Linked DNA regions of Homo sapiens. The protein of the gene in region 3 interacts with the protein of the main gene of each other region in a biochemical or structural test. Each region holds a gene or a part of one and is shown on either strand. Other genes may lie near its edges.

Evidence for each region.
Region 1: the proteins of CRHR2 (region 3) and UCN2 are reported together in a solved structure, tested with the Homo sapiens proteins (one study listed by IntAct).
Region 2: the proteins of CRHR2 (region 3) and UCN3 are reported together in a solved structure, tested with the Homo sapiens proteins (one study listed by IntAct).

Annotation. Positions count from the first base shown.
Region 1 is NC_000003.12:48,561,148-48,568,391, forward strand, and holds UCN2 (urocortin-2 preproprotein), read right to left. Parts: upstream 2,635-7,244; 5' UTR 2,556-2,634; intron 1,990-2,555; 5' UTR 1,978-1,989; coding exon 1,639-1,977; 3' UTR 571-1,638; downstream 1-570. Other genes in the region: COL7A1 (collagen alpha-1(VII) chain precursor), read right to left, coding at 3,259-3,275, 3,636-3,833, 3,962-4,054, 4,263-4,349, 4,489-4,521, 5,120-5,168, 5,363-5,416, 5,513-5,590 and 6 more. UniProt on the Homo sapiens protein: Suppresses food intake, delays gastric emptying and decreases heat-induced edema. Might represent an endogenous ligand for maintaining homeostasis after stress.
Region 2 is NC_000010.11:5,360,409-5,367,998, reverse strand, and holds the start of UCN3 (urocortin-3 preproprotein), read right to left. Parts: upstream 3,034-7,590; 5' UTR 2,769-3,033; intron 1-2,768. UniProt on the Homo sapiens protein: Suppresses food intake, delays gastric emptying and decreases heat-induced edema. Might represent an endogenous ligand for maintaining homeostasis after stress.
Region 3 is NC_000007.14:30,679,414-30,686,724, forward strand, and holds the start of CRHR2 (corticotropin-releasing factor receptor 2), read right to left. Parts: upstream 3,044-7,311; 5' UTR 2,868-3,043; coding exon 2,765-2,867; intron 2,628-2,764; coding exon 2,502-2,627; intron 1-2,501. UniProt on the Homo sapiens protein: G-protein coupled receptor for CRH (corticotropin-releasing factor), UCN (urocortin), UCN2 and UCN3. Has high affinity for UCN.

The DNA.
Region 1 (7,244 bases), on a different chromosome or scaffold from region 3:
CTGCAGCTCCAGAGTGGGGTAACCCCGCCTAGCACTCTGAAGAGAGAGAAGCGACTCCTGCGGCTCCTGCAGCCCCGCCTCCCCAGCCCACTGTAGGCCCGCCCCCACAGGGCTGCTTACAACTGTGAGGGCAGCGCCAGTGCCCCCACTCCAGTCAGCCGGCCACGCTGTGGCCAGTACAGTCTCCCTCTCCCGCCAGAGCTGCCCATGCCACCCAGCGTCTGCCTTCATGTCCACCTAGAGTTGTCTGCACAGCCCAGAGTGCCTGCCCCCTCTGCGGGCAAGCCCGTCCACACTGCCTGGAAAGTCAGTTCTGTCTCTGGCCCAGCAATGGAGTTGGGCTGTGAAATCAGGCAAAACCTAGTCCTTCCAAACCAAGGGACCAGGTCAGTTAACCGGGGAGCTAGGGAGGAAGGCAGAGAAGCCAGGTATGACTCACCCACCATGTGTCGCGGCCTGGGTGCACACCACTGGGATTCTCGCACATCCCATCCTTCAGTCGCTTTGTGTTTATTGAGCACCTCCTGCTGCAGGACCTCCATGTCTGCTACATACACAATGCTCACAGGCTTGCTGGTCCCATCCTTCAGTCGCTTTGTGTTTATTGAGCACCTCCTGCTGCAGGACCTCCATGTCTGCTATATACACAATGCTCACAGGCTTGCTGGTGTCGCTTTGCTTTACAGATAAGGAAACCGAGGCTCGGAAAGGTGAACACCTTTGCCCAGGACAGTCCGTGCGTGAAGTGGGACAGAGTTTGGTTGGAGCTCCGGCAGCCTGAGCCCTGTCTCCTGTGAGCCCTGCATGTCCCTGGGTCGAGGCTGGGGATGCAGGGGTACGTGGGGAGGACAGGGCCTGGCCAGGAGTTGTTCTTGCTTCATGCAGGTTTGGGGGACAAGCACCCACTCCTCTCAGACCCCTCACGTACCCTTACCCTGCTCACACACACTCACAGCTGTCAGAGACTCAGCCACACACGCACATATGCGCCCATAAGACAAGGCTGCCATGGTCACAGGCTTCCTGTGTTCGGGCCTTTGTGCCTGGAGACACCCCTCACAGCCCCGTCCATCTGGGGCAGGTGCTGCCTCATGGGGCACAGAGCAAGCAAGTGACCCTCAGCCAGCATTTCTCTGTGTGGTGGCCTATGGGATGACAGACCTGTGGGCCTCAGAGGGACTGGTCGGAGGCAGTGTTGAGCTCTCGTGTTGAGGCTCCTGAAAGTAACATGATGATGACTGCATGTGGCGGTGTCCAGGTGTTCTGTGACTATGGGGCACCCAGACATAGCAAGACTCGCCACAGCAGTGACCTTACGTGGCAGCATCCAAGCTGTCCGGACATATATTAGGTCTGTGGGGCACACAGGCATGGCAAGACTCCATGTGGCAGTGACCCAACTTAGCAATGTCCAATGTCCAGGCTGTCCAGACACACTGTGACTCTGTGGGGCACTCAGATCTGATATGACCTGCATGACAGTGGCTCCATGTGGCAGTGTCCAGACACTGTATGCCCAGATGTGGCAGCGTCCAGACACTGTATGCCCAGATGTGGCAGCATCCGTCCAGCTGTGTGGCTGCCCTCCAGGTCTTCCCATCCAGGGTGGCCCTATCACTGTGACCCCCTCTCTCAGGCTCAGCAGTGGCCGACACGGGCCAGGATGCGGGCGTTGGTGGTGGCCTGCTCCCTGGCAGCCCTGGCCCGGGCTTGCTCCAGTAAGATCTGCAAGAGGCCGATGGGGACATCCAGCGATAGGACAATGCGCGAGCCAGGGTGGCGGGTGGGGCTGCAGTGGCTCTGGGCAGCCCACGGCCATGTGGGAGCAGCTGAGGGGCTCTCTGAGGCCGCAGGTCGGGGAGTGGTCTGGGGAGAATTCTGAGGGCGGAGCTGGAAGGTTGGGATAGGGGTCACTGGGACAACCAGGACTCTGCCCAACATCAGGACCATCAGCAACAGCAGAGCACACCTGGTCATCGTGAGGTCAGGCTGCAAGGAGAAAATGGGCTCAGGGCAGGGGCTCTGGTCAACTGGGGTCCATGGACAGAGACAGATGGCAAGGGCAGAGTGACAGAGCGGGGGATGGAGAGAGAGGAAGACACCGAGAAAGGGGTTAGAGAGGCCAGGCCAGGCCAGAGACAGAGAAGGGGAGACAAGAGGAGAGCCAGAATGAGACAAAGAGGCAGAAAGCAAGACAGAAAAAAAGAAACAAAGAAATCCAGAGACAGAGGGACAGCAAGAGAGGGAGATGAAGGAGATGGAGGCAGAGCAAAATGGAGACTAGAAGAAAAAGACAGACAGAAACCATCCCAGAGACAGACAGCATGATGGAAAGAAAGATTCAGACAGAAACACAGAGTCCACAGGAGGGCAGGCGGTTCTCAGCAGGAGAGCTTGCAGCTGATCCAGGAAACAGAAGGGCAGGAATCGGATCTCAGAGGCAGAAAAGCAGCCAGAGATCCCAGAGTCCCCTGGGTCCAAGCCCTCCATAAAGCCAAACCCCACATCCACTCAACCTCCAAGACCCTTCCCATCCCGACCCAACCCAGTCCTACCGCCACCAGCTGCTTCTGGGGTAAGGCAGCCTGCTGTGGCTGCCTGGGGCTGGGGCCAGGCACTACTGTCCTGTGGTCTGACCCTCTACCCCGCTTCAGGGCCCATTTATCTCCCTCAGCCCCCTGGGGTGGGAGCTGGTACATGCTTCCTGGCATGAGGCAGCCCCCCACCTATGACTCATCCCTCCCGGGGGTGTCCTTAGCCCCCACCCTATCTACTCTTTTCCGGGGACAAGTTGGGGACTGAGAATCACAAGACAGTGACCAGGACTGGGCAGAGGGACTCTGTACCCATGCAGAATAATACCAACCCCCCAAGGAAAACCTTCCCCCTTGAAACCCCCCATCTTCCCAAACAGTCACAACAGGAGCCTTTTAAAACAGCAGCTTTAATGCCCCCCAGAATCAGCACCATGTCATCACAGGCTTGGGTCAAGGGGCGGGTCAGACGCCAGTCACATCCGCTCACTGCCCACAGCCACCCCCCCACAGTGAGTCATCTGCCAGGGTGGCAGGAGCCACAATGGGGGTTTGTCCACAGGGGGGAAGGCTAGACCCACGGGACCAAGTCACTGAAATAACGGACGTGCACACGCACGCTCACGTGCACACAAGCCTCTAGCACCAAGGGGAGGGACAGTGGGGTTCTGCTGAGACCCCGACTCCTCCAGGGGATGCTGAATCTCAGCTCATTATCTGGGCCTCAGTCCTGGGCAGTACCTGGTGAGGACAGGTTGGAAACGGTCGTCAGCCATCTGACCTTCCCCGGAGACGCTCAGGCAGAGGCACCGCCAAGGGGAGGGAGCGGAGGCTACAACAGGAAGTGGGGGCTCTGACCTCAGAGGGGTCCATACTTAGGTCTTTAAAGGAGGGAACATGGAAGGGGACCCTACTGGGGGCTCCACGGCTGGGGCTCTATATTCAGCTCTTTGGTCTGGGCGTCTGCCCCAGGTCCCCTACTGCGAGGGAGCGTCTCCTCCAGGACCCTGACCTGGAACCCTGGCCCAAGGACTCCTCCCCCAGAACCCGATCCAGGCAGGCTCAGTGCCCAGTTCCCCACGGTGGGGGCTCAGCCCATACCTGTCCCCTGGCTCTGGACCACCCGGGGTGGGCAGCGGCGCTCGCAGGCCTCACGGGTCCCAAAACGGTTGGCATTCCCTCCACAGCCACCATAGACAAAAGGGTGACAGGCCTCTGTGCTGCCTGTCACAGCCCGATGGTACCAGCGCAGGGTGTAGGCAGTGCAGGAGCCCTCATCCAGTGGCAGGGAACAGGGGTCTGGGCCAATGGGGTCAAGTCAGCAGGGTTTGTGGGAATCAGAGAGGGTTGAAAGGTCAGGGGGAGGTCAGCAGGGCTCAGCCCTGCCTGCCCCTCCCCAGACCCCGCTGGCAGCCCCCCATTCTCACCATCACTATCCCAAGGAGCTTCAGGGTCCTGGTACTCCTCCACAGAATACTCGGAGTATTCAGAGTACTCATCATCCTCAGGGGGTACCCGCTCTGCAGGTAGGGCAGGGTGTGCTGGGAGCAGTGGCTGCTGGCCCCGGGGCAAGGTGGGCAGCACTGATTTCCACTGTGTGCACACAGTGCCCATGCGTGTGCCCTGCATGCAGACCCTACGTGCTTGGCGTGTGCCCTGCATTCATGGACACCCATGTGCGTGTCTCGGCCCCACCCATAGCTGCCCCACGGGTTCAGCTGTCCTCACCTTCCTCCTCTGCATGAGAGACGCGGAGCACAGGCACAGCATGGAGCTGGGAGCCGGCAGTGTCTGCAGCATAACTAGGGAGGGGTCCTGGAGCCAAGAGCAGGGGCCTCAGGGCCCTGAAGTCACCATGGGCAGCCATCCCAGCCAACCCCCCTGAGAGGACCCCAGTTGATAGGCAGGGCAGGGCCTGGGGTGAAGAAAGTTCTGGGAGTAGAAAACTACTCACGTGATCCAGATGCGATGAACTGGCCCTGGCAGGCTAGAGGGGGCAGAGAGGGATAGAGAGACAATGACAGAGAGAAGGATGGGAAGATGGAGAGACAGACAGAGACACACAGGCAGAGGGGTAGAGATACACAAAGAGATAGCAGGAGAGGGTAACAGGAGAGAGAGGAAGAGAGAGGGTGGGAGGTAGATAGAGAGATGGAAAAAGAGAAGAAGGCAGAGGAGAGGGAAGTTGGGAACAGGCCAACAAAAGGCAAGAGACAGAAGCAGGCCAGACACAGAAACAGGCAGGTGGTGCAGACAGAGACGGGAAGAGACAGCTTCACTCTGATGCCCCTCCCACCGGGTCCAGGTCAGGCCCAAGGGGACCAGCTCTGCTCCCACCATCATCCCACTCCCCACACAGCCAAGCTGGACATCTGAGAGCACTGCATGGCAATCCTCATCTGCCTGTGTGTCTCCCTCCACTGGGGACACATGTCATGTGTCAGTCCTGCAGCACATGTGTCCTTCTGTGTATCCATCCATCCCCCCATCTTCTTGACTGCTTGCCCTGTAAGTTCTAGGGGCCTGCCTGCCCTTGCCTAGGGTGCTGGGGTGGAGTGGGAGACTGCGGGCTGGGCACCACTCACCACAGTGCTGACTCATCTCTTGGCGCACAAAGCCCCGGATGTCATCCTCCTGGGAGCAGAAGACCACAGGGACCATAAAGAACCCATGGCCCACAGGAAGGACATAGGGCACATAATACAGGGACTATGGTGAGACTGCATGGAGCCAGGGCCCAGGGGTCAGGGTGCTGGGTGAGGGAGGTAGGGCCCCAGCCCACCCAGGCCCACCCAGGCCCTCCCAGGCCCATCCAGGCCCACACTCACCGTCAGTGCAGCTTCTCCCTTCTCGCCTCGAGGACCGGCAGGCCCTGGCCGCCCCTATGTGCAACAGATGGGACCAGGCTGTGACCTCTGACCTCAGGGACAACAGAAGTCACCCCGATCTCTGACCCAAGCCTTGGAATCCCTACTCACCTGCTCCCCTCTCTCGCCAGGAGCTCCAGGGACCCCAGGAGCCCCCACCACTCTCTCTCCGGGGGGACCTCGCTCACCCTGTCAGACACAGGGACCAAGTGAGCAGGGTCAGAGGCAGTGGGGATCAGAGTCAGGCAGGTTGGGGGCCACAGCTTCAGAGGTTGGGGCAGGCAGGCTGGAAGATGGTTATGAGGTTGGAAGGGTAGGGAAGGTTCAGGGATCAGGAGTCAGAGCTGGGGCCCCTTACCTTCTGGCCCTGAAGTCCTTCGGGGCCTCTGGGACCAACACTGCCAGGTGGCCCTGGGGGACCAGCAGAGCCATCATTTCCACTGGGGCCTGGGAAGCCCCCAATTCCTGGGGTTCCCTGGGGAGATATAGGACAGAGTCAGTAATCAGAGGCCCCAGAGATGGACCCTCTCCCAAAGTGCACGCTCCCCTCAATTCACCATGACCATGGCTTCAACTCACCCGCTCCCCTTTCTCGCCCTGGTCACCCTTGGGGCCTGGCTGCCCGTCAAAGCCTCGGTCACCCTGGGAACAGAAGAAGCATGAGAGACCTTCTGCCCTGACCTCCCTCAGCTCTGGAACCTCCCTGAACTCCCATGAGCTCCCTGGCCTAATGCCCAAACCTTCTGTAACCCAAGCACCTGTGAGCCAACCAGATGTGATCCCCATGACTCCAACTCCACTATAGCCCCCTGCCCTGATGCACATGCCCCCTCCACCTCCCATGCTTTCATCCTAACTCCACTGTGACCCCAACCCACCTTGACACCTCGAGACCAGCCCCACTTCAGCCCCCAAAGTCCCAACCCTCTACAGCCTTCCTTGTCCCTACACCCCCATGACCCGACCATGAGCTTCCCTGCCCCATCCTGACTCCCTGTCATGTCCACTGTCCACAGACCCTGTACCTTGGGACCGATCAGGCCCTCCTTGCCAGGGGCCCCCGACTGGCCCGGCACACCAGGCTCCCCCTGGAGAAAAAAAGACATGAACTTGGCCCCCGTCCACCCGTGGCCCCCTCATTCTGAGCGTGCCCACACTCACCATCTCTCCTTTGTGTCCTGCCAGCCCGGGGCGGCCTGGGGGACCAGCTTCTCCCTGCAGGCATCAGGCAGTGGGGTGAGCCTTAGGCCCCAGGCCACGTAGCCCCCCAGCCCCCATCCCCTCTGTACCTTGTCTCCCTTCTCTCCATCAAGGCCACAGGCTCCCTTCACTCCCCGTTCACCCTGAGGGAGAAAAGCAGATGAAGAAGTGATTCCCAGACACCTCACTCTGTGACCCCCTTCACCCTGAAACTAACTCTCCAAACAGGCCTCAGCTACTCCAACCTCTGACCCAGTGCCCTAATATCTGACCCCAGGTCCCTCGCCCTTCAACATTAGGCCTTCCTGACCAGAAAAAAACCAATCTTGTTTCTTTCCTACCTTGAGGCCCCGGGGACCCATGAAGCCAACATCTCCTTTTTCTCCTCGGATACCAGGCACTCCATCCTTTCCTGGGGATCCCTAGCAGGGAGAGGGTCCATGTGAGGTCAGAGGAGGTCAGTGAGGGACCAAAGAGAATCGCCCTGGATAGTGGGTAGGGAACACCATGGGGTGGGAGTCACCTCTGGAGGCCAGAGCCACTGGGGCTTGCCATGGGGACAAGGGTCACCATAGGCAGGGGACACCATCATAGGCGGCTACTGTGGAGGTGGGGGACCCTGGGTGACATGAGGACACCATGA
Region 2 (7,590 bases), on a different chromosome or scaffold from region 3:
ATTAGAGGGTGCTGAGATGCAACCCTGGAGCTACCCTCAGGCCTCCCTCTGTGGGTTCCACATGGCTCTCTCCCCACTGCCCCACCACCCCATTTGTTTATTTTGCTTCCTCACTCAAACCCTGCACCCCAGCCCAGGGAACCCCTCCCTGCTCCTTTCTATTTCCTTCCCGGGGCAGCATTCTGCATTTACCCTCAAGCACTTAGAACTTTGCAGAATAATTGCAAATATTACTGAGAACTCAGACTACTTTCTGAGTTCAAGCCCATCTTGGGGCTCTGCTCACACGGACTGGCCCTTTAGTGTAAATCAACACTTGAGTTTACCTGTCTATCTCCACCCCTTAAAGACACTTTGGGTGTTATATTTCTTTGGTGTCTCCATTTCTGCTAAATATGCCAAGCCTTTCACTATCCCTCTGGGTCATTTGGCTCTCAGCAGTGACTCAGGATGCTTGGAAAAGCCTGACATGGCCAATAGTGCCTTATACTAAATCATATTCTCAATCAATATTTGTTGAATGAATTGAAATTCAGATTAGTATTCAGGCACTTAATTAAATCAATTTATTTTCCAAAGCAAAACAACCTCTTTTAAATTCTTTCATGGATGTACATTCTCTCTGCAAATCATGTTGTTACGTATCACAGAGGAAAAAATCTTTTATATGGCATACTTTTTTGGTTTTGTTTTTTAATTATGAAATCATACATGTGTACCTAGAGTCACTTGAAAGATGAGGGCTTCTGAACATGAAACAGCCTCGTCTAAGTAACTTTCTGCAATTTTCCTGTGAAAAAGTTCAGGTTTTCCCTTGCAATGGGCTAGCCTCTGGATGTGTTCCCTGGAAGTGCTACCTGTCTCATCTCAGTTACAAAAGCAAGGCATTGGGGAGAGGGAGTGAGATCCCTTTTACCTCTATATTTACTTTTTCACATTTTTGGGGTCAATTTGTAAATACTGTGCCTTTTAAAAAATGCATTACCTTCTTATTTTTCAAATCCCAAGTCTACCATCAGAGAAGAATACTGTAATCACGGCTAGGGTGCTGAAGGTGTGGAAAAATCTGTGAAAGTGTCAGGGAGCAAGTGTCCTGCGTGGCGCTCTGTTCTTGGTGCATCTGCAGGTAGCAGACCTTTCTCTCTCTGCAAACCCTCAGCTCTAGCCTGCACACGGTTGTGAGGGTATTGAAAGGTGTCCCCTTACCATCAGCAATGATGCAAAGTTACACAGCAAAGGAACCTCCCAGAACTGTGAATTGGACATGATAGGGACGCCCGGTGCTGAGCTTAGTTTTAGATCGTTTAAAATGTAAGGGTTCTTTGCAACCCTGGATGGTTTCACCATCAAAGTGTGTGAGTGGCTGGGGGCTGGAAGGTAGATTCAGATTTCTTTCCAGGACTTTTCTTTTTAGGATCTGTTTAGATTTGTTTAGGGTTTATAGGATAAAAGAAAAGGAACTCTCCCCAAAGAAGAAAAGATACTCTGTACTTCCCACATAAAGTCTAATTTTGCAAGTTTCTCCTTTTACATTCCTTGGACTCTTCTGCCATATTCTTGGTGAAACAGCACAAAAGTTTAAGATTTCTCTGCAGTCTGCCACGAAAATAACTGGGCACCATCTAGTTATTAATACATTTGAGGGGCAAAGCTCTACACCTGTATTTTTCTCTGGGTGCCTGAAACTCAACCATTCCTTTGGGCTATGGTGACAGTAGCACTTGTCGAGGATGCTGTAAAGAGACACAGTTACTTCTGGGAGCTGTGGCAGAGCCAAGCACTGAAACGTGAGGGACCTGGGTCAGCCTCCAATTCCCAGCACCTCACAGGGAGAGGACAGGACATGAAGCAGCAAAGGCAGGAGGCAAACAGTACTGATCACACATCTCTGCCAAGTGCAGAGCTATTCCTGTGGGCTCCGTTTGTCTGCAAACACTGATAAGAAGTTAAACTGAAACTAGACCACTTAAAACGTTTTAAAAATCTCACATTTGTTATTTTTGGTAGGTGGCTATGCTTGGGAAAGAAATTGCGAACAGGAATTTTCAGAAAACATAAACATCAAACATCCATCTCCCCTTCACAGGTAGGAGTTAGCCATTGTAGGTATCTGCACACACCCCCGCAATGTTCCTAGTGTGGCAAAGGGCTCTGGGCTTTGGTGGCAGAGGACCTGGCTGGGGAAACTCCCTTGCCTCTGACTTTTCTTGGGTGAATCCCTTAACCTGCATTTCACTTGCCGCGTCCTAGGAAGGAGACGTTACCTGCTTCACAGGTGTGCCCGAGAGTGACGGGAGATGGCACAGGTGAAGGTTTGTGGCACAGGTAAACAGTAAGTGCAGGTGTCCTCGCTGCTTTGCAGGCGGCGTGGAGTCATGTCCTGTGGCTCCCATTAGCCCCGGCATCCCTACCCCATCCCCATTTGTAAACTGTCTCCGAGGACTGACTTTCCTGTGCACAGCTGTGCTCTGTTCAGAGAAAACAGATTTGTGTGAACACCTTCTGCCTCTGATCTAACACCTTTGGAAAGAGGGTCTCTCTATACCAACGTGGGAATGTGATTGTGCCTCCCTGAGAAACTTCCCCTGGTCCCTTTGGGGCTGATTTCTGCTGATTGGGTGGGGGGCGTTCAGCATCGCTCCCTTGGGCTTCCACCCAGGGGCGCTAGCAGCTCTCATCTCTCACACCTGTCTAGTGCATGGCACCTCCTGCTTAAATTAGGGCAGATACATTTACCCTTCATAAGTCAGTCCCAGCCACAAGCTTACCCGAGAGTGGACTTCCCTCCGCAGCGAAACGCTCAGGGAGGCCGGCGCAGCTTCAGGGCCAGGAGGGCGGCCCCGTGCACGTCCCCATGAACTTGTGGCTGCTCCGGGGTCTCGGCTCCTGCTTCTCCGGTATTGTTCCTAAGTGGGCTGTGATATTCCCTCTCTATGGAAACGGTCCCCTCCCCTGTGTGTATATAAAAGTGACAGATCACAGGGTGGATCGTAATTCCAGACGTGGTGTCTACGCTGGGATGAGATTTCATTTAAAATACAACCAGAACCAGCCGTCCACGTCATGCAGACGACAGGTGCTCCAACCTCGACCCCTCCCACCTCTGCTTCCCACCCCGCCCTTCTACCCCCCAACTCCTTTTGCATCCTAGCAACTTGCTTCATTGATAAAAGCAAAGAACAAAAAAGAAAAAGAAGAAATAAAAACTCAAAACAAAACAAAACAAAAATCCTGGTAAAGTGAGAAGCAGTGTCTTTGAAGAATTTTATTGCTGATCTTAGTTCTAACTAATTTCAGTTTCCCCCACATTCCCCTTGCCCTAACTCTCCTTCTGTAAATGTAGAGCCTGGACCTGCTTTGAAAGCAGAGAAGGGGTTTAAAATCCACCTGTTGCCGTGTTGTTTTGTGGGTTCTGACCGTGCAGCGTCATCTGGCCGCACACGTAGCCCCTTGTGCTTGTCACACACTCGGTGCCTACTCCCCACATAAAGTCTAATTATGCAAGTTTCTCCTTTCACATTCCTTGGGCTCTTCTGCCGTACCCTCAGTGAAACAACACGAAAGTTTAAGATTTCTCTGCAGCCTGCCGCGAAAATGACTGAGCACCATCTATTTGTTAATACGTTTGAGGGGAAAGCTCTACACCTGCATTTTTCTCTGGATACCTGAAACTCAACCATTCCTTTGGGCTATGACAGCAGGTCATCATACACCAGAGGTCTGGAGGTTTTAGTGGGAAATGGCTTGGATTTTACTCGTTTATGCATCCTATATTTATTGAGGACTTACTGTGTACCAGGTATTGCCAAGACACCCACGAGTTCAGAGATAAGTAAGTTGTGGCCCCTAACCATACAGGGCCTCATGGTTTAGAAAGGTAGGGAAGGCTGGGTGCGGTGGCTTATGCCAGTAATCCCAGCACTGTGGGAGGCCGAGGCGGGCAGATCACGAGGTCAGGAGTTCAAGACTAGCCTGGCCAACATGGTGAAACCCCGGCTCTACTAAGAATACAAAAAAAATTAGCCGGGCATGGTGGCGAGTGCCTGTAATTCCAACTACTCAGGAGGCCAAGGCAAGAGAATCACTTGAACCTGGGAGGTGGGGGTTGCAGTGAGCTGAGATGGCGCCATTGCACTCCAGCCTGGGCAACAGAGTGAGACTCCATCTCAAAAGAAAGAAAGAAAGAAAGGTAGGTAAAAAATGCTACAGAAGAGAGCAGTCCTGTCTACTCAAGACAGGAGAGGAGAGCAGGAGGGGTTTCAGACAGAAAGGATGGATCAGCATGGACTGAGCCAGGGCTGAGAGGAACGGGAGAGAAGGAGGACGATGGGAGGGAGGTGTTGGTGGGTGCAGAGGCTGCTCTGCACTAAGGTGCTCCAAAGGCCTGCGGAGTTGGGAGTTTATTCCATATGTAATGGGGAGATGTGGGAGACTACGGTCTGTTGACCCCTTATTCACAGATGAGGAAGCTGAGGCTGTAAAAAGTGACCTGCTGGGACCCCACAGGCCCAGGGTGACAGAGTCAGGTGAGAACCAGGCCTGACGCTGGGCTCAGTGCTCCTTTCACTGGGCTGAGCTGATGACAAGGGGCCCTGCAAGACCGGCTGGCTGTCCCTAGCCCTCCTCCCAGACGGCTGCTCCACTCTCGTGAATTCCTGCAGGTGAAGAGGTAAGAGGTCTTCTGAAATTACCAAAACTCTTTAAAGCCCATGAGCATTTGGAGGAACAAATGGAAAGCTGTTGTGGGGAAGGACTTCAAGACTCTGTACTCCCCATTTTAAGTCTCTTTATGGAGATAGGAAATTGGACCTCCCTCTCTTCCTTCTTTCAGAGCTGCCTGGGCTAGGATCCTCTTGAGATTGGAGGCAACATGAAACTGAATCTGTGTTTCAATTCAAATTCATTACTTCATTCATTCATTCATTAGTTCATTCATTCATTCATTCATTAGTTCATTCCTTCATTAGTTCCTTCATTCATTCATTTGTTCTAGTTTTTGTGAGGTTTTTGTTCTGCTTTCCATTTCAGATAATGATGCAGTAATGGAATTTATGCAGGTTGAGGGGTAGATTTCCACCTGAGTTTAACTCTCCTGTCTGCCTTATGGGCTCTGAGATGCCAGGGATCTGGCAACGTTGGTCTCCCAGGGCAGGGTTTCCCATCCTCAGCACTGTTGACATTTTGGGTGAGGTAATTCCTTGTTGGCCTTGGGGTCTGCCCTGAGCTCTGGAGGAATTTAGCAGCATCCTGGGCATCTACCCATTAGATGCCAGTAGCACTCCCCTCTTTGTCTGTGACCATCAAAAATGTTTCCAGACATGTCCTCTGGGGGCATGAGGACCACTTCCCTACAGTATGGGGTTTAGAAAGAGAGACGATGAACCCTGGCTTCTTTTCTTACCTTGTTTCCTCTGAACTTCCTAGAAATCCTCCTACCCTGAGGCCACCTCGCTGGGACTGAAGGGTCTTGGTGTTGGTGGCTGTTCTTGGAGCCTGCCGTCCCTTCGTCACACAGAGCAGGCTCATCGGCTCCCACTGGTCCATCCTGGGTGGGCTTTGGCATTGTCCAGTGACTTCTGCTAGCCTGGATGGAGTTCCACACAGAATGTTTCATGGACATGAGCAGCTGTAAGGGTGCAGTCCAGGGTGTAGTTTTCTAGAAATGTCAAGAAATAGTACATTTGCTTTACAACTTGAATGACGCATCTGGTGGGGGACTGAACAGAGGCTTGGGCAGCAAGAAGATGATGAGTAGCAAAACCTCTGGAGTGTCATTTCTAGCAAACAACGATTTCCCTCCCTCCCCATGGCTGATGTGTGAATGTGGCGTGTTTCTACACTTGCACTTCTCTCTGGCCTTTGTGAGTCATTGGTATCTTCCGTGGACTCAGCATGAGCATGTTGTTCAGGGATGTAAATGTCCTGTAGAGGGTACAAAGAGGGCCAGGGTGAGAAGAAAAAGCTGATCAGCTTCTCAGGTGAATAGAAATGGCTCATATTTATAAAGCTCATTTCTCCAAAGTGCTCAAAGCACTTACACTTAATAACATAATTATTTCCTCAACATCTGAGCATGGCGGTAAAATAAAGATAGACGAGAGAATTAGCAAAGTGTGAGAGAGCTTGACTTATAGGAGAGAAGTTTTACTGAGGAGCCGGGAAGGTCCGTTTTCATTTCTGCCTGGGTTGCTAGCATGGCTGTTTGATTCTCACAGACACCCACATTCCCTAGTCCTCTGTCTCCTGTATTTTAAAATGTAGATTGCTGTGCCTTCCCTGTTTGTTTTTAGCAAGGTTGATGTCAAGATAGTATTGCAATAACTTGATAAAGTTGTATGTGAACACAGAATATTAGCATCATCTTTCTTCTTCAGTTCTCCCTTATTTTCTCTGACTGATTTTTTGTTCGTGATTTCTCACTTTTAGCAGGGTGTGTGTTTACCTCCTGTTGTGTTTGTGGATTGTCAATTTTTGTCTTGTAAGTCTGTCTATTTCTGTTTTATATATTTGGAGTGTTTGGCATATATAAATTCTTCATGTTATCATCTTGCTGTTAACCTCTTCATCCTAAATAATACTTCTCATAAAGTTTGCTTTGCCTGATATCAAAATAGCTATCCCAGCTTTCCGTTGGATAACTTTTGCTTGCTGTATTTTTCCAGTCTTTTCTGTTTCAGAATTACTTTGTAAATGGTATATATTTAAATTTTAAAAATTAAATCTAACAATCTTTGTGTTTTAACCAAGGACTTTAATAAACTAATGTAAAGATACTTGACTCCTGATGTATTGAATTATTTTCTACCATCCATCTTACATTGTGATTTCTATTTGCACAGTTTTATCCCCCTTTTCTTCCATTTATTATTGTTTTTTCTTTTCTGCCATCTGCTGTATTGATGAAGTCTTCATTTTCATTTTCCCTGTATTTTACAATCTAACCATCTAAAGCTATTTAATATATAACTTTTCTTCTAAGCATTGGTTTAGCCACATGCCACAAGTTTTAATGGGTTGTATTTTCATTGTCATTCAGTTCAAATATTTTTAAATGTTTTTCTGTGATGAAGGGTAGCCAACTATGTGACTCCAAAATATACCATATGGCATAAGGATTATTTTGAGCTGACGACAGTTTAGGAAAAGCAGATACTATTGATAGAAAAGCTCTTACCCTTCCCATATTTGCCAAGGCAGGACATGCATTTGTAAAGGTGTCTGCCCTTCTCTCTACCAGGAAGAACAGACCTAATCCCCTGAGACAACCTAGAGTTTTATTAGCCGGGAGGAGCCAGAGAAATCTACCTAACAAACCTTACTCACTAGCCCTTATCTTTCATTAGTTTCCTCGTATATTTACCTTCCTGCAATTTGCCTCCCCTAAAAACTCAAAGTATTTTATCTTGTCTTGTCACTTCTCTAAACATTTATTGCTCTGTTGCTAAGATGCTCTAGAATCCCAAGTTCTAACCACCCTCAGAGTTCCTCATCCCTGAGTTATCCTGCGGGCGTGCAGGATGCACCGGCCAACAAACTTGTGTTTGTTTTTCTCTTGTTAGTCTGTCTTCTGTCAATCTAATTTACAGGGCC
Region 3 (7,311 bases):
TATGGGCATAAAAGCAGTATGTATCTCAGAGGGAGTGTGGGCGAGTGGGATTATGGATGCCTGAGATATGGATACAAAGCTCTCTCAGTGGTAGCTGGCACCTGGAAAATGATCAACACTTAGCTTTGTGGCAGATTCTCTGTGCTCAGCTGAGTTGAAAAATCGCAGAGACTAATATCTAAACTGCTATCCCCACCCGGGCGATTCCTGCTCTCTAAGGAATGAGGCTTCAATGCGGGTTTGGCTATAGCATAACAAAATTGGGGCAGGAAGTGGAGCCTGAACGCTCCTGTTCTTCCCCTAGGCTTCTCGTGGAGGTTTCTCCCTCTGTCATTCTTTTTAAAGGAAGGATCCCAAGGAAAAGGCAAACAGAGAAGCAGGAAGCAGCACTGATGTGAAGAAAGGGGAGGAGGGAAATCAATCATGCATTTCCACAGCCATTAGCAGCCTCTGCTCTTCCCACCTAGGCTGACCTCACACCCCAGGTGCTGGTTAGTGGTAAGTGCTCCCCACCCTCCACAAGCTCCTCTCATTCTCCAGCAGTTGCAGTGCAGGCAGCACTTTGGTCTAAATGAAGAAAATTGTTCATTAGATACCAGGGGCTAATTGGCCCTACTTTTACCAGCCTGGGTGGTGCCCCAACCTTTTATCAGCTTCTCATTAGACTTAATTGATATGAATGGCCTGATATGTGCTGTCTGCAGCACCTTTGGGAAGTCTTCCTTGTCACCCCGCCCCCACACCCCAATCCCATAGACCTTGTGCTTCCCCCCTAATTAGGGCATTCATCATTCTGTTCTTTTTGTCTGTTGCAATTGTGAGTGAGAGCCTCAATACAGTGCCTGTGCAGTGGCTGGCACATAGTGGGTATTCCACAAATTGACTGAGTATTACTGTACTCAGCTTGGCTATGAAGAAGAGACCCAGGCCCTGGGAAGGGGGGGCCCCCAGGCTGGTCGGGGAGAACAAGGCATAGCCCAGGCTGGGGTAAGAACGAAAGCAGAGCTCCCTGAGGTTCACAGGCTGTGGGCTGAGATGCTCCATCACCCCACTTTACCCTGGATGGCCCTTAATCTCCGGGCCCAGTCTGAATCAGGCATGCTGATCTCCATTGCCCCACCCCACACAGCTCACGGAATCCTAAAAATACAGTTTTATAAGGTCAGGACTAGGAAGGCACAGGGAAATCATTCCTTCTGCTTGCACACCTCCTAGCTTGGGGATCTTACTTCCTTCTAGGGAGATCTGTTTTAATCATGGATGGGAAGCATGTGCTCCCTGGGCCCACCAGAGCCCTCAGCTGGTGCAGCCAGGAGAGTGCGGCTTGGCATCAGGTGCAGGTACATCTCTCTTGCCTTCTAACCATCTCTCATGGCAAAGCCCTCAGCCTCAGCTTCTGAAAGCTTGTGTGTGTGTGTGTGTGTGTGTGTGTGTGTGTGTGTATGTGTGGTGGAGGTGGAGCTGGGCTACCAATCAGACACAGACACTCTGAGGATGTTTCCAGGATGAGAGGCTTCAGACAAACAATCCAGATAGGGTCTCAGCGTGCTTGACAACTGGGGTCCGGCTGGAGATATCAGGGGGGTTCTAGGTGGGGCAGTGATTGCTGCCCCCACAGCCTCCCGCAGACCACACACCTGGCTCCCATCCCATGTTCCACAGGGCACAGACAGGCACCTACCCACACGCACACACCCAGAACCCACACTGAACGACCCCACCTGGAGGCTGTGTAACTCCAGCAACCTCTACTGCCCTTTTCCCCAGAGCCTCAAGCCAGTCCATGATTTGCCAGGAGGAAGGCAGGCACAGGTTGTTCTCCTTGAGAGATGGTGTTGGGGTGCTGATTCAGACACCACTCATTATGGGGGCGCAGGAATAATGCTGCCCACAGCCCCTGACTCAGCCCAGCAGGTCAGTCCTGGGACCTCGGATTAGGGAAGATGCAACACCCCGCACCCTCTGGCTTAGCAGAACCTACGCCTGCATGTCCTCCCCACGAAACATGCGCTCGCCCCAGCCCTCCTGCCTCCTACCCTCCTCCTCCCCTCTGGTAGTAGGGTCTGGTCACTGCACTCACTCTGGGGGATTTGGGACTTAGCATATCCGCCCTCCTGGGATAGGTCCCCCTCCTGGGCAGGGGAAGCATTGTCTAAACAATGAAGCCCTAATGGGGAACTTCAGGCAACGGGAACCTACAATGAGGGAAGGAGGTTTACACTCCAAGAGGAGGAAGTATTTCCTTCTCCCCTTTTTGGGCTGTCACCGCATGGAGCACGGGAATTGTGGGCAAATCACTGGCTTACTGAGATTAGACGCTGTATTGGGGGTAGAAGCAGAAGGCGCGCCCCCAACACTGTAAGGGGTCCTTAACGCCCGCGGTCCGCGGTACCGCGGCCGTCAGCAGCTTTGTACCGCTGGGTCCGGAATCCTCTTTACTCCCTAAACCGCCTTCTCAGGAGGCCGGTGTAGAGCAGGCAGCGAGGGCCGGGGGCACTCACGGGTCGTGTTGTACTTGACGCCGTTGAAGTACTCGGGGCACGGCCTCTCCACGAGGGCTCCGGCAGCGCTGCGGGGCCAGCACGTTCCGATCTGGTCCAAGGTCGTGTTGCAGTAGGAGTAGGGACCTGGCGGCGGGAGAGAGCGCAGTAGGGCTCAGAGGGGCCCGCAGGGACGCGGGGCTCTCGGAGCGCGGGGTCAGGGGCGCACCCAGCGCGCGAGAGAAGGAGCCCGCGCAGCCTCCGACCGCTCGCCTCCCGCCTACCCTCGGGGTCCAGGGGTGGCCCCCAGCCGTCCAAGAGCAGCTCTTCAGCCAGCGCCAGGCTGCAGTTGGCCTCCAGCAGGCTGTGGAGCAGTGCCGCGTCCATCGCGTCCCGCAGCCGCGTGCGGAGAGGGAGTGGGAGTGCGCGCCCGGCGTGACTGCGAGGGAGTGGACGCGAGAGTGAGCGGCCGAGAGGGCGCGGGGTCCTGGCCCCCGCCAGCCCAGCCCCGATCTCCCGGGCAGCCTTTGGGCGCCACCTCCGGTCGCCCAGAGCTGTCAAGTGGGGACCTTCCCGGAGAGGAGCCGCCGAGTGCACGGAGCTGCGGGTACAGCCGCTCCGCCGCGGCCAATGGCTGCGCCGGGGGGCGGGGCCGGGCGGCTCCTCTCGGAGGGGCTCAGTCTCCAGCCCCCGGGCCCTCCACCCTGCCCAAAGTACGGCTTCTCAGTTCGCAGCTCTCTTCCACTCGCGGCGTCCAGAGGAGGGCGGTGGGCTGGAGAGCGTGGGCCTGGGGTGACGGAATGCTCTGTGCGGGGATCGCAGGCCCCCGAGCTGCAGGGGGCAGCAAAGCGCGCCCACCTGCCCGCCTGCCCGAGGAGAACACCGCAGCTCTGCTAATCGAGGGACAGCCGCAACCCAAAGTTCGGCAGCTTTCCGCCTGAGCTTCCCCTCCCTGAGCGAGGACACTGGAGGGAGGCAGAGACGGAGAGCCCATGGGCAGATCTGCATCCTCCAAAAGCCTCCATAGCCTCTGGGAAGGAAATGTATCGAGGAGGCCTGGAGGGAAGCAGGGAGACACCCATGAGTCTAATGAGATCAAGTGGCCTGAGTGGGTTGAAGTCCTTGGATCAGACCGTGGAAGCTGGAATGGAGAGAGATTTCGGAGGGGCAGCCAGACCTGGTGAGGAGGAACTGGAGTGGGTGGCTGGTTTTAAGTAGGAGCCCAGAGGCAGGGATAACATCAGGTCTCCTGCTTGAGTGACTGGGTGGCCATTTAATCAGATGGAGTAAGTCTAGGGGAGAAATTGGCTGAAATTATCTGGAAGGCTTTATACACCCAGTTGTTAGTGCCTTGGGCACCAGAAAGAATAAAGGAAGAAGTGAGAATGTGTCTCTCTTCCTCAAGGCTTGGGCAGGGCTTCACCTGACCCTGGTTTCCACACCAGTAGCGGGGCAGGGGCGGGGAGAATCAGGCCCCACAGCAGGTGTGGAGGAGCTGGAAACCTCCCCAGAGAACTTGCCCAGGCCCCCCACCCCACCCTGGCCCAGAATGCCTCCTTGGTGATCTGCTGTGGCTGCACCCTCAGAGTGCCCAGGGCGGGCCTGCTGTGTCTGCCAGCTGAGTGGGGCATTGGGCTCGGGAAGCAGGGCCTGGGGTAAGGCATGCTTCCACTCAGGCTGCATTTTGGTCCAGCCTCTGACTCTGCTCTCCCTGCCATGGTACCCCAGGCAGGATGCTTGCCCTCTCTTCTGGAGCTTTCTCCATCAGTGAAATCTTCCCCGAGGCCCCTCTCAGCTCTGAGACTCTCTGGTTCTGAGTTATGAGACGGAGAGTCTGGGGAAGACATACATGTGTGTTGTGTGTTGTTTGTTTCTATCTTTAGAGGGCAAGGAGAGCTGGAACCTAGTCTCAGAAACCAGTCCTGTTCCCCTGCCATCCTCCACATAAACCTAAGCTGCTAGGAAAGGCTGAAACCACCATGAACTAGCACCATGCCCTGGGCAGAGAGAGGCAAAGCAGCAGGCAGGCTGCTTTTGTGTGCTCCGCTCTCACCAGCCTCCATATTAATGGTGCTGTCACTGCCCAGGCAGAGCGAGTGAGACCACACTAAGACCAGGGCTGAGCCCTGGAATCTCTCCAGGGCCTGCTGACTGGCAGGAACAAGATGCTGAGCAGCCAGCCAGGTCTACCCTCTGCCTCCTGAATGGACAGTGAGAGCCCAGGCTCAGCTCTGGGCAGCTGCAGAGGTAGAGGTTCCTTGGTCTTCATATTATCCAGTGCCAGGAGCAGGGGAGGACCTAGGCAGAGTCCTACCCTCCGCTCCTAGACTGAGCCCTGTTACCCAGGGTCCCACACAGGCCAGAGGGTGGCTGGCCAGGTCAGCCCATGTATTCACAGGGCAATAGTGTCCCTCATATACAAGGGATAGCCCTTCACACAGCACGGTGCAGCACAGAGGAAGGGAGAAATCCTAAGCCAAGCTTAAGTTATTATCCTTGTTCATTACTGCAGCCACCACCTAGGTGGTGCCTAAAGCACCTATAGATGCAGCTATGTCAAGAGGTGGTGTGCTCCCAATGACCAGAGGCCAGGGACTTCTCATCTCATGCAGATTTCTGCAGAACAGAGGGTTGGCCTGGGTGAACTGGATTGCTCTTAACTGGGAGAGCTCACATACCAAAGATTCTTCTGGGAAGTGACCATTTCAGTGGCAGAGTCAAAGGCTGTTCTGCATCCTGAATGAGCAGTTGGGGTCTGAGCACATACCCACAGACCCACAGACCCGAGGTCCCCTGGATGTGGGGCCATTTCTTCATGGATCTTATTATTATAGGCACAGTTGTCATTCGAGATGTGACAGAGGGAAAACTAGAAAAGGTAGCAGTTTGGGAACAAATTGATTTTACAGCTCACTTTAGTGTCTGCAAACAGGCAAATGAGGAAGAAATTGGGAAGAGCCCCAAAATTCCCTCAATTTTACTAAATCCAAGTACAAACAAACAAAGACAGGGGCATTTTTGCTAACTAAAGAAGCAGAGGTAGATTAGAGGCTTTGGGATAGTGATGGGTTCCCAGCGCTGCAGGCCAGCCCCATCCCAGCTGGAGGCCAGGAATTAGGGGATAAGTATTTGGAACAGTTTGTGTGTCCCCAAGCTGTTGGGGACAGGTTGGCAAATAGGTTCAGGGAAGTGTGACAGGTACTTTGGAAGACCCCTGTGTACCATGAGCAGCAGAGTAAGGCAGGTGCCTCTGGTGCCCTGCATCCCATCCCATGGCCCACCTCTGATGTCAGCTGCAGCAGCAGTGGACAGTTCCAGGCCAGCTCAGACACACTTGCAAAGCCTAATACATGGCATCAAACAGGCATGTAGGCACAACAGAATCACACACAGAGCCACAGTTATGCATCTTCACCATGCACACACATTCTCTCTCTAATTCATCCCCTACCACTCAAATGTCAGCTGGAAAACAGGATTTAAAGGGACAGGATGCATCTTTGCTTCTCTAAGGGACTGTCCTTGGTTAGACTACATAGAGAGGGAGTCTATTCAGGCACAGCTGGAATAGTCGTGGTGTTTCCTGGGAATTACGACGGGGTTGCTGAGGGCACAGAGGTTCCAGAGGGGCCTGAAGGTGCTGCACTTTTGCCCTGTAGCACTGGAGACAGGGGTCCCAGGCCAGGCACCCCCTCCTCACCCTATCCTACTCCACTGCAGGACAGAGGAATTGGCCTGGTGTCTTCATGTCAAACCATGGGACTAAGCTGTGGGGACAGAAAGGACTCTCAGTGACATCCAATCCCACATTCTTGTTTTACAGATGGACAATAGGATTCCCAGACAAGCAAAAGAGGTTTCCCTCCCTTACTTCTCCCAGGCCATCCTCATCTCTGCAGCAGCCCAAATGGGCTCCCTGTCTCCTCATGGCAGATAAAACGATGTTTTATAATTACGATCCTGTCACTCTTCCTCATAGGAGTGCCGCCAACCCATTGCCCTTGAGATGGAGACCACCTCTTTGGTATTGCAAAGAAGGTCCTTCGTAATCATCTATCCCTCATCCTCACCCTTCTGCTCCATTTGAAAGGCCCTCCAGAACAACATGTCATTCCTGGGAACCATCTTTGGTATTGCAAAGAAGGTTCTTCATGATCATCGTCCCCCATCCTCACCCTCCTGCTTCATTTGAAAGGCCCTCCAGAACAATGTGTCACTACCAGAAACCATTCGCTATCTCTGTTCCTTGTTTGTATTTCTGCACTGGAAATGGCCTTACAGCTCCACACTCATCCTTCAGACATGCAGCTCCTTGGTGACCCCATCTGCTGGGTGCTGGCCTATGTCACATCCAGGTTGCTTTTTATTCATTGTCTCATCTACCAGCCCATGCCTCCCCAAGGGCAGGGCTGGTCCTGGTTCACTAACCCATCCCCAGCACCCATTGGAATGCTCTAGACTTCAGCCCAGTGAGTCACTAAGAAAGGACAGATACCTTGGCAGAAGAGCTGAGGAAAGCCCAGGTCCCTGTCTTCAGGCCAAGGCTCTCTTCCCATTTGACCAACCCTGGCATATGTGTGTGTGTTGCATTGAGGAATTATTTCAAGGTATCTTTGAATCCATTCGGATTCTTGGCCAGGTGCAGTGGCTCACACCCATAATCTCAGCACTTGGGGAAGCCAAGGTAGGCAGATTGCTTGAGCACAGGAATTCAAGACCAGCCTACAAAAAATAATAAAAAATAAATAAATAGTCCATTTGGATTTTTATATCATCTATGGATAGGATAAATAATATGCCTCATAATATATGCCCTAATATTTTTCAAATA